2 separate regions of the Homo sapiens genome follow, and region 2 is linked to region 1. Evidence: fine-mapped expression QTL. A gene starts in region 1. The other region holds a variant in brackets. All regions are shown on one strand. Distances are between the middles of the regions.

What was found. PIP is the estimated chance that this variant, and not a neighbour inherited with it, causes the effect. A credible set is the group of variants that fine-mapping cannot tell apart.
Region 2: its variant is the best candidate, but not a certain one, in a credible set for the expression of SDE2 in whole blood (INTERVAL, PIP 0.81).

The regions. Positions count from the first base shown.
Region 1 is chr1:225,997,609-226,001,991 of GRCh38, forward strand. SDE2 (spliceosome associated SDE2) reads right to left here and starts at 1,735. Exons shown (of 7, transcript NM_152608.4): 1 at 1,585-1,735. The coding sequence starts at 1,704. RefSeq lists enhancers at 1,590-1,699, 2,220-2,369, 2,390-2,489, 2,570-2,619 and a silencer at 1,760-2,039.
Region 2 is chr1:226,113,974-226,118,356 of GRCh38, forward strand. No RefSeq gene overlaps it. Among named protein-coding and RNA genes, the nearest start is that of ACBD3-AS1, 32 kb to the right of the region's middle. RefSeq lists an enhancer at 1,107-1,911. The variant G/T (reference allele first, on the strand shown) is at 1,946.

The DNA of each region.
Region 1 (4,383 bases):
TTTAGGAGAGATGGGGTTTCACCATGTTGCCAAGCTGGTCTCGAACTTCTGACCTCAGGTGATCTGCCCGCCTCGACCTCCCTAAGTGTTGGAATTACAGGCGTGAGCCACCACGCCTGGCCTATATTTCTTGCTTCCGATTTAAAAATTCTTTTTTCCAACATACCTCATGATTAAGATCCTATTTTTTCTGGTTTCACTTTGGATCAATTGTCAGCAAGTTTGAAAACTGTACTCATAGGCCGGGAGGAGTGGCTCAAGCCTGTAATCCCAGCACTTTGTGAGGCTGAGGTGGGCGGATCACCCGAGGTCAGGAGTTCAAGACCTGGCCAACGTGGTGAAACCCCGTCTCTACTAAAAATACAAAAATTAGCCAGGCATGGTGGCGGGCGACTGCAATCCCAGCTATTTGGGAGGCTGAGGCAGGAGAACCGCTTGAACTCAGCGAGGCGGAGGTTGCAGTGGGCCGAGATCACGCCATTGCACTCCAGCCCGGGCAACGGGAGTCAAACTCCGTCGGGGGTGGGGGAGGGGGAGAAAAGAACACTGTACTCATGAAATAAGAATTATTTTCAAAGGAATTAGAATGCAATTATTTTCATGGTCAAAAACAGTTGTGCTTACAGTTTTTAGACTGGATTACAGAGCAGGAAGGAAAACATGGAAAGTGAAAAACCGTATTATTTGCAAACACACATTGCTTCTTCACGGAATCGATCCAAGTCTCTTAAAATTTTGGTCTAGACTGCAGTGTTAACATTTGTTAAGCTTATAAATAGTAAGCAGAGGAAATAGCCGAGGAAAGCACGGATGAGGTGCGGAAAGAACAGAGTTCTAGATCAAGTGCCAACATTAAAATTAGATTCAGGGAAACCACTAAATTCTTTTGACAACTGAACAGGTTTAATATCTTATAGCTGGTAAAAGCTTACTTACTTGAAAGTTCAGTAAAAGCTCACGTGTAACTCTGGAAGTCCCTGGTAGGTTTTCACAAATATGCACGGACAAATGAGACCATCAAATTAATAGTGAACACTTCTACGTAACAGGCCCTAAGAACCCAGGCCCTCAACAGGACACACGTGTGAATGCTTGGTCACAACGACTGACCAGAAGAATCAATTTTCCTTCCCAATCATCCTTTGGCCTGGGTTTGGATATGACATACTTCTCTAGGCTGGGGCTAACAAGGCTGTGTGATGAGTGGACAAAATACACGTCACATAACCATAGTAAGAAGGTGAAGACTGGAGCCTTAAAAATCAGCCGGCCCAACTGCCAGAAGACCATTATATTTACGGATAAAGAAAGAGAAACAAAGTATTTGTAACTGTGAGCGGGACTAAGTGCCTGTAACAGTTTTTTTCTCCCTCTTGGTGGGAAGGCAAAACCACCACCACAAAAGAAAAGCAAAGGAAGGTCTCAGTAACAATTCGAAGCACCTTAACACTGAGGAACTCTCAGCCTCAACGAGTGAAAACCCCAGAGAATAAACGTACCCCCGCCCCGGACAGACCTACTCCGCACCCAGCGCTGCCACCTGTCTGCCTCTTTCTCCTTCCTAACAGGAACCGAAATCCTCACCTGATCTTGGCAGTGCCGGTGGATAAAATCCCGGACGGTGCACCGACCCGAGGCACACCGCACCGCCTTGCACCCGAAGCCAGGGCCGCGAATCCACACCAGCGCCGCGGCCTCCGCCATGTCACCGACTACCCGAACCTCAAGCCTCTCTGAGACACCAGGCGCCGCAACTCGCCCGGCGCCTCTTGATGACGCGAGCATCTTCCAACGCCCCGCCCCTCACGCTTCCGTTCACCCCTCCCCTCCCCTGGGGCGGGTCAAGTGAGCCGGGCGGCGGGGCGGTGCGGGCTGGGGGAGGGGAACAGGAAAGGCCTGGCGGAGGCAGATAAGGCGGCAGAGCACGGGGCGAGGCGTTGCTAGGAGAAGTTGCTAGGGCGGGGCTCGAGGGACCGGCTATAAAAGGCTGGCGCTGGGTTAGGTTTCGAGCTTCCTGGCCGTAAGCGATAAGGCTTTAACTGAGAACCACCTTGTGCTGTAGGCTTTGGCCCTTTTCCTCACATCTGTGTAGTTATTTTTGGGTCGCGGAGAATTGTGGCCCGAGAAGGCTCTGCTCCTTGAGAGTGTGGGGAGAGAAGCTGCAGTCCCGGAAGCGGTTTTAGGGGGCCGCTTCCTTGGCCTAGAGGAGCTCCCCAACCCGAGGGGGCAAGGGAAACGACCCCCAGGAGGCCCCTAAACAGTGGCCGGCGTGGTTTCTCCTCCAGCTTTACAGAGCCTTCTCTTCCCCTCCAGAAACAGCCAACCTCCGGGTTTCTGCCTGCCACGCACGGTTTATTCTTATTTCCGCCTGTTTGTGCACTGCGTTATCTCCACTTCAGCTCTGTTTTCAAAATATTTCACAGCAAGTGGGCTCTTGTGAAAGGCAGTGACAGGAGTGACGTTTATAGTCATGCTGCTTCAAAAAACCCTACCATAACTTTTATTCTGCACCATGGAAACACACTCGGACAGATTTGCATAACGTAACCTTAAGGCTCAGGGAATCCGAAAGAGTCCCTTAATATTTAACAGAATGAGATTATGGTATTTCTAAAACCCTGAACAATTCAAAAGCCACCAGTGTGAAGATAGGAAGGTTATTTGGAGATATCTGTGCCTGCTAAACACAAATGCATCGGCCCACAGAATTGCCTTCTCTGCTGTTAAAATGCTTGGCAAATGGAACTCCTAGCTGAGGGGGTAACAACAAAAAATTCAGAAATCGTTTAGCGGTGGCAGTATGTGCGAAAATGGAATTTCAAGGCCTGGGAAGTTAATAGATTCAGTGGTCTTTATTTCACACACGAGGGAAAGTTGGGGAGAGAAAGGGCCTCCATGGGGATGCCAGTAGATAAATAAAAATTACAAAAAAAAAAATAATAAAGATAGATTGTACTGGCCGGGCGCGGTGGCTCATGCCTGTAATCCAGCACTTTGGGAGACTGAGGCGGGCGGATCTCGAGGTCAGGAGTTCGAAACCAGCCTCACCAACATGGTGAAACCCCATCTCTACTAAAAATACAATAATTAGCCGGGCGTGGTGGTGCGCGTCTGTAATCCCAGCTATTCAGGAGGCTGAGGCAGGAGAATCGCTTGAACCCGGGAGGCAGAGGTTGCAGTGAGCTGAGATCGTGCCATCGCACTCCAGCCTGGGCGACAGAGAGAGTCTCCGTTTCAGAAAAAAAAGATATATTGTACCTAGGAAGCAGTATTTCGGAAAGGTGGTGCCATGGCAACCCTGGGGCGTGAAGGTGTCGCCAGGTTACATGTAAGCCGTCCAAACTCCAGAAACCTCAAGTCCCTCTGCAGTCTGCTCCCCAGCTCTCTGTCCTCCAGGTTCCTGAAAAAGTAATCTACAGATCTGAGCCTTAAGCCTCTTCTTTTTTTATTTGTGATTTCTTCCTTCTGGTGATCAAAAATGACTATTTCAAATAAATAAATAATTTTTTTAAATGACCATTTCAAAGGTCTGAGATCCTACAAGTAACTGTATAAAGGTCAGTTTGGGTTTCCAAAACATTTTTTGTGTCGGGATAATGCTTCGTGTCTTGTGAGGAATTATTATGATTAGTCTTTTTTTTCTTTCTTTCTTTCTTTTTTGAGACACTCGCTCTGCCACCTGGGCTGGAGTGTAGTGGCGCAATCATAGCACACGCAGCCTTGAACTCCTGGGCTCAAGTGATCTGCCACAGACTCCAGATGGATTACAGGTGCATGCCACCACACCTGGCTAATTTTTAAATTTTTTGTAAAGACGAGTTTTTCGCTAAGTTGCCCAGGCTGGTCTTGAACTCTTGGGCTCAAAAGATCCTCCCGCCTCAGCCTCCCAAAGTGCTGGGATTACAGGCGTGACCTGCCGTGCCTGGCATAAGTAGTACTTTCCAGTAAGGAAACTCCACATCATTTATTACTAACATTATATTTAGTCCTCATAAAACCTGATGTCTGAATGGAATTTTTCGCTTTTTATCCCTCTGTTGCATTTAAATTCCTATTATTTAAAGAATCCCAAGTATTGAATAGGTATTTGTCATTTAAAATATGAAATAACCATTGATATTAGCTTTTGAAAGACACAAATTTCCAAGTAATATATAATTTGTTGTTAAAACTTCAAAATGAGCGTGTAGTACCATGACATGTACAGAGTAGATATTAAGTAAATATTAGTTGGATACTTGATGGATTACTAAGGTAGAAGTTAATTATTCTCAATGTACATATGATGAAATATATTTTGCACTAATATAACAATCTATTGTAAGGATGCAGAATTTAACTTGGATTGCTATTAAATTCCTTTAAAGAATGAGGAAATTGAAG
Region 2 (4,383 bases), 120 kb after region 1:
ACCTGTCACCCAGGCTGGAGTGCAGTGGTGCAATCTTGGCTCACTACAAACTCCGCCTCCATCCCCACCCCACTGGGCTCAAGCGATTCTCCCACCTCAGCCTCCCGAGTAGCTGGGATTACAGGTGTGCACCACCATACCCAACTAATTTTTGTGTTTTTAGTAGAGACAGGGTTTCGCCGTGTTGCCCAGGTTGTTCTCCAACTCCTGACCTTAAATGATCCATCTGCCTCAGCCTCCCAAAGTGCGGGGATTACAGGTGTGAGCCACTGCGCCCAGCCTGCTTGTTTTTATTTTTAAGCCTGACTTTCTTTTTATTTATTTATTTATTTTTTTTTTTTTTTTATTGATCATTCTTGGGTGTTTCTCGCAGAGGGGGATTTGGCAGGGTCACAGGACAATAGTGGAGGGAAGGTCAGCAGATAAACAAGTGAACAAAGGTCTCTGGTTTTCCTAGGCAGAGGACCCTGCGGCCTTCCGCAGTGTTTGTGTCCCTGGGTACTTGAGATTAGGGAGTGGTGATGACTCTTAACGAGCATGCTGCCTTCAAGCATCTGTTTAACAAAGCACATCTTGCACCGCCCTTAATCCATTTAACCCTGAGTGGACACAGCACATGTTTCAGAGAGCACAGGGTTGGGGGTAAGGTCACAGATCAACAGGATCCCAAGGCAGAAGAATTTTTCTTAGTACAGAACAAAATGAAAAGTCTCCCATGTCTACCTCTTTCTACACAGACACAGCAACCATCCGATTTCTCAATCTTTTCCCCACCTTTGCCCCCTTTCTGTTCCACAAAACTGCCATTGTCATCATGGCCCGTTCTCAATGAGCTGTTGGGTACACCTCCCAGACGGGGTGGTGGCCGGGCAGAGGGGCTCCTCACTTCCCAGTAGGGGCGGCCGGGCAGAGGCGCCCCTCACCTCCCGGATGGGGCGGCTGGCCGGGCGGGGGGCTGACCCCCCCACCTCCCTCCCGGACGGGGCGGCTGGCCGGGTGGGGGGCTGACCCCCCCCACCTCCCTCCCGGTCGGGGCGGCCGGCCAGGCAGAGGGGCTCCTCACTTCCCAGTAGGGCGGCCGGGCAGAGGCGCCCCTCACCTCCCGGAGGGGGCGGCTGGCCAGGCAGGGGGCTGACCCCCCCACCTCCCTCCCGGACGGGGTGGCTGCCGGGCGGAGACGCTCCTCACTTCCCAGACGGGGTGGCTGCCGGGCGGAGGGGCTCCCCACTTCTCAGACGGGGCGGCTGCTGGGCGGAGGGGCTCCTCACTTCTCAGACAGGGCGGTTGCCAGGCAGAGGGTCTCCTCACTTCTCAGACGGGGCGGCCGGGCAGAGACGCTCCTCACATCCCGGACGGGGCGACAGGGCAGAGGCGCTCCCCACATCTCAGACAATGGGCGGCCGGGCAGAGACGCTCCTCACTTCCTACATGGGATGGCGGCCGGGAAGAGGCGCTCCTCACTTCCTAGATGAGATGGCGGCTGGGCAGAGACGCTCCTCACTTTCCAGACTGGGCAGCCAGGCAGAGGGGCTCCTCACATCCCAGACGATGGGCGGCCAGGCAGAGACGCTCCTCACTTCCCAGACGGGGTGGCGGCCAGGCAGAGGCTGCAATCTCAGCACTTTGGGAGGCCAAGGCAGGCGGCTGGGAGGTAGATGTTGTAGCGAGCCGAGATCACGCCACTGCACTCCAGCCTGGGCACCATTGAGCACTGAGTGAAGGAGACTCCGTCTGCAATCCTGGCACCTCGGGAGGCCGAGGCTGGCGGATCACTCGCGGTTAGGAGCTGGAGACCAGCCCGGCCAACACAGCGAAACCCAAAAAATACGAAAACCAGTCAGGCGTGGCGGTGCGCGCCTGAGGCACTCGGCAGGCTGAGGCAGGAGAATCAGGCAGGGAGGTTGCAGTGAGCCGAGATGGCAGCAGTACAGTCCAGCTTCGGCTC[G/T]GCATCAGAGGGAGACAGTGGAAAGAGGGGAGGGGGAGGGGGAGGTGGAGGGAGAGGGAGAGTTAAGCCTGACTTTCTAAGGGTTGTCCCTGGAAGCCAGTGATTGGTCAGAGGTTGTGAGAAACAATTTGAGCCAGTAAAGCTTCCACTGTTTGCTAATGGATCTGTGTGTAGATTGTGAGGAACATATTCAAAGTCCAGACAACTTTACAAGTCTGATGCTGCTTTTGCTTTCCCCCAGGCCCTTTCCTGTCTCCTCTGCAGTGTGCCAGTCACGATGTTCTCCTCCGCATGTGTGGGTAGCTAGGGCCCTCTCTGGTCTCTCTTGAGTGTGATGCAAACTTTCGCATGCCTGCAGCCTTCCAGACCACTGAGGGTGTGAGGCCGCTTACCCACTAATCCCTCCTTCTCAGAGGAGGGTCAGGGTGAGCCGTGTTCGGGCCCTTAGTGCCACAGTCAAGAAGGATGCCTGGGCCGGGCGCAGTGGCTCATGCCCGTAATCCCAGAACTTTGGGATGCTGAGGCAGGTGGATCACCTGAGGTCAGCAGTTCTAGACCAGCCTGGCCAACATGGTGAAACCCCGTCTCTACTAAAAATACAAAAATTAGCCAGATGTGGTGGCGGGTGCCTGTAATCCCAGCTACTCGGGAGGCTGAGGCAGGAGAATCGCTTGAACCCAGGAGGCAGAGGATGCGGTGAGCTGAGATTGTGCCATTGCACTCCAGCTGGGCGACAAGAGTGAAACTCCGTCTCAAAACAAAAAGGATGCCAGGACCTCAGGCACAGCCCAGAAGCACATGCTCCCCTGCTGAGGTGCTGCAGGGAAAATGGGGGTCTTTCTGCTCCCATAGAAAGATGACTTCTGCTCCCAGGCCAATTCTACATGGCCTTCTCCCTTCTCTTCCCCTTCACAAATATATTCAACGGTCCACAGGCAGGGGCCTTGGGGAAAGAGATAACAAAGACAAGGTTCTCAATGACAAGAAACTCGGGCTAGCCTTAAGTGATTAACTCTCTCTTTTTTTTTTTTCTTTTTTTTTTTTTTGAAATGGAGTCAGTCAGGCTGGAGTGCAGTGGTGCAATCTTGGCTCACTACAACCTCCATCTGCTGGCTTCAAGCCATTCTCCTGCCTCAGCTTCCCGACTAGCTTGGATTACAGGTGCCTGCCACCACGCCTGACTAATTTTTGTTTTTTAGTAGAGACGAAGTTTCACCATGTTGGTCAGGCTGGTCTTGAACTCCTGACCTCAAGCCTTCCACCTGCCTCGGCTTCCCAAAGGGCTGGGATTACAGGCATGAGCTACCACGCCCGGCCCGTGATTAACTTTTAGACAATATCCTGAGTGCCCCAACCAGTGTTAACTGGGAGCTAAGGGGAGAGTGCTGGTAGACAGATACTGTGCTCTGAGGGATGAGCACCCCAGCTTCCCCCATGCACCCGCAATTCAGGATGTTGTGAGTGATGTTCTTTCCTTTGCATGCCTCACTTTTTTTGTTTGTTTGTTTGTTTGAGACAGGTTCTCTCTATGTCGCCCAGGCTGGAGTGTGCAGTGGTTATTCATGGGTATGATCATAGCGCACTGCAGCCTCCATCTCCTGGGCTTAGGCGATCCTCCCACCTCAGCCTCCCGAGTAGCTGGGACTATAGATGTATACCACTGCACACGGCTGTATGCCTCAGTTTTTATGAATATTTTATTTATTTACTTGTTGGGTAACATTCATGTAGCTCAACATTCTGAAGGGGCCAAAGGGTATTGAGGGACAACTCCCCTCCCTTCCCCAGCCCCCAGCAACCTGGCTTCTGTGCAGCCCTGTGTTCCAGCTGTAAGGTTTAGGCTCCCAGGTATGCAGCAAACATTTCCCTGCCAGTGGGATAATGAAGCTGCCTGTCAGGAGCACCTCCAGCCCCAGCCCTGGAGATGAGACTGCCTTATAGCGCTCTAGCTTGATGGGCGCAGATGACAGTGACAGCCAAGGCCAGAGGAGGGCAGGACCAGAGTGGGTCTAGGGACGTGGGAACCTGGGAGAGGCTAGGAGCAAAGCAAGGAGTGTCCTGGCTTGGGCCTCATCCTCCAGAGTCCCAAAGGCCTGCTCACTCAGCCCTCAGGGTGACCAGAGACCTCAAGTATTGCAAAGTCTCCACAGCGGGTCTCTCTGACTGCCCTCACCACGCAACTCCTGAGGGCTGGACTCTATCCTGTAGGAGGTGGGGTGGGGTCCACTCTTTCCCTTTGGATGGGGGCAAATGGCAATTGTATTCCAGATGACAAAAGGGCTGTTGATATTTGGGGGAACCAGGTCGGGAAGGGGAGTTGGGGGAGGATTCTCCTGATGATCTGTTCCAGCAGAGGCATGTCACTTCTTGAGGGACAGTGGCAGCTGTCAGCTAAAAGTTTTATTAAAGAAGCCCCTGACACTAACAGAGAGGTGATG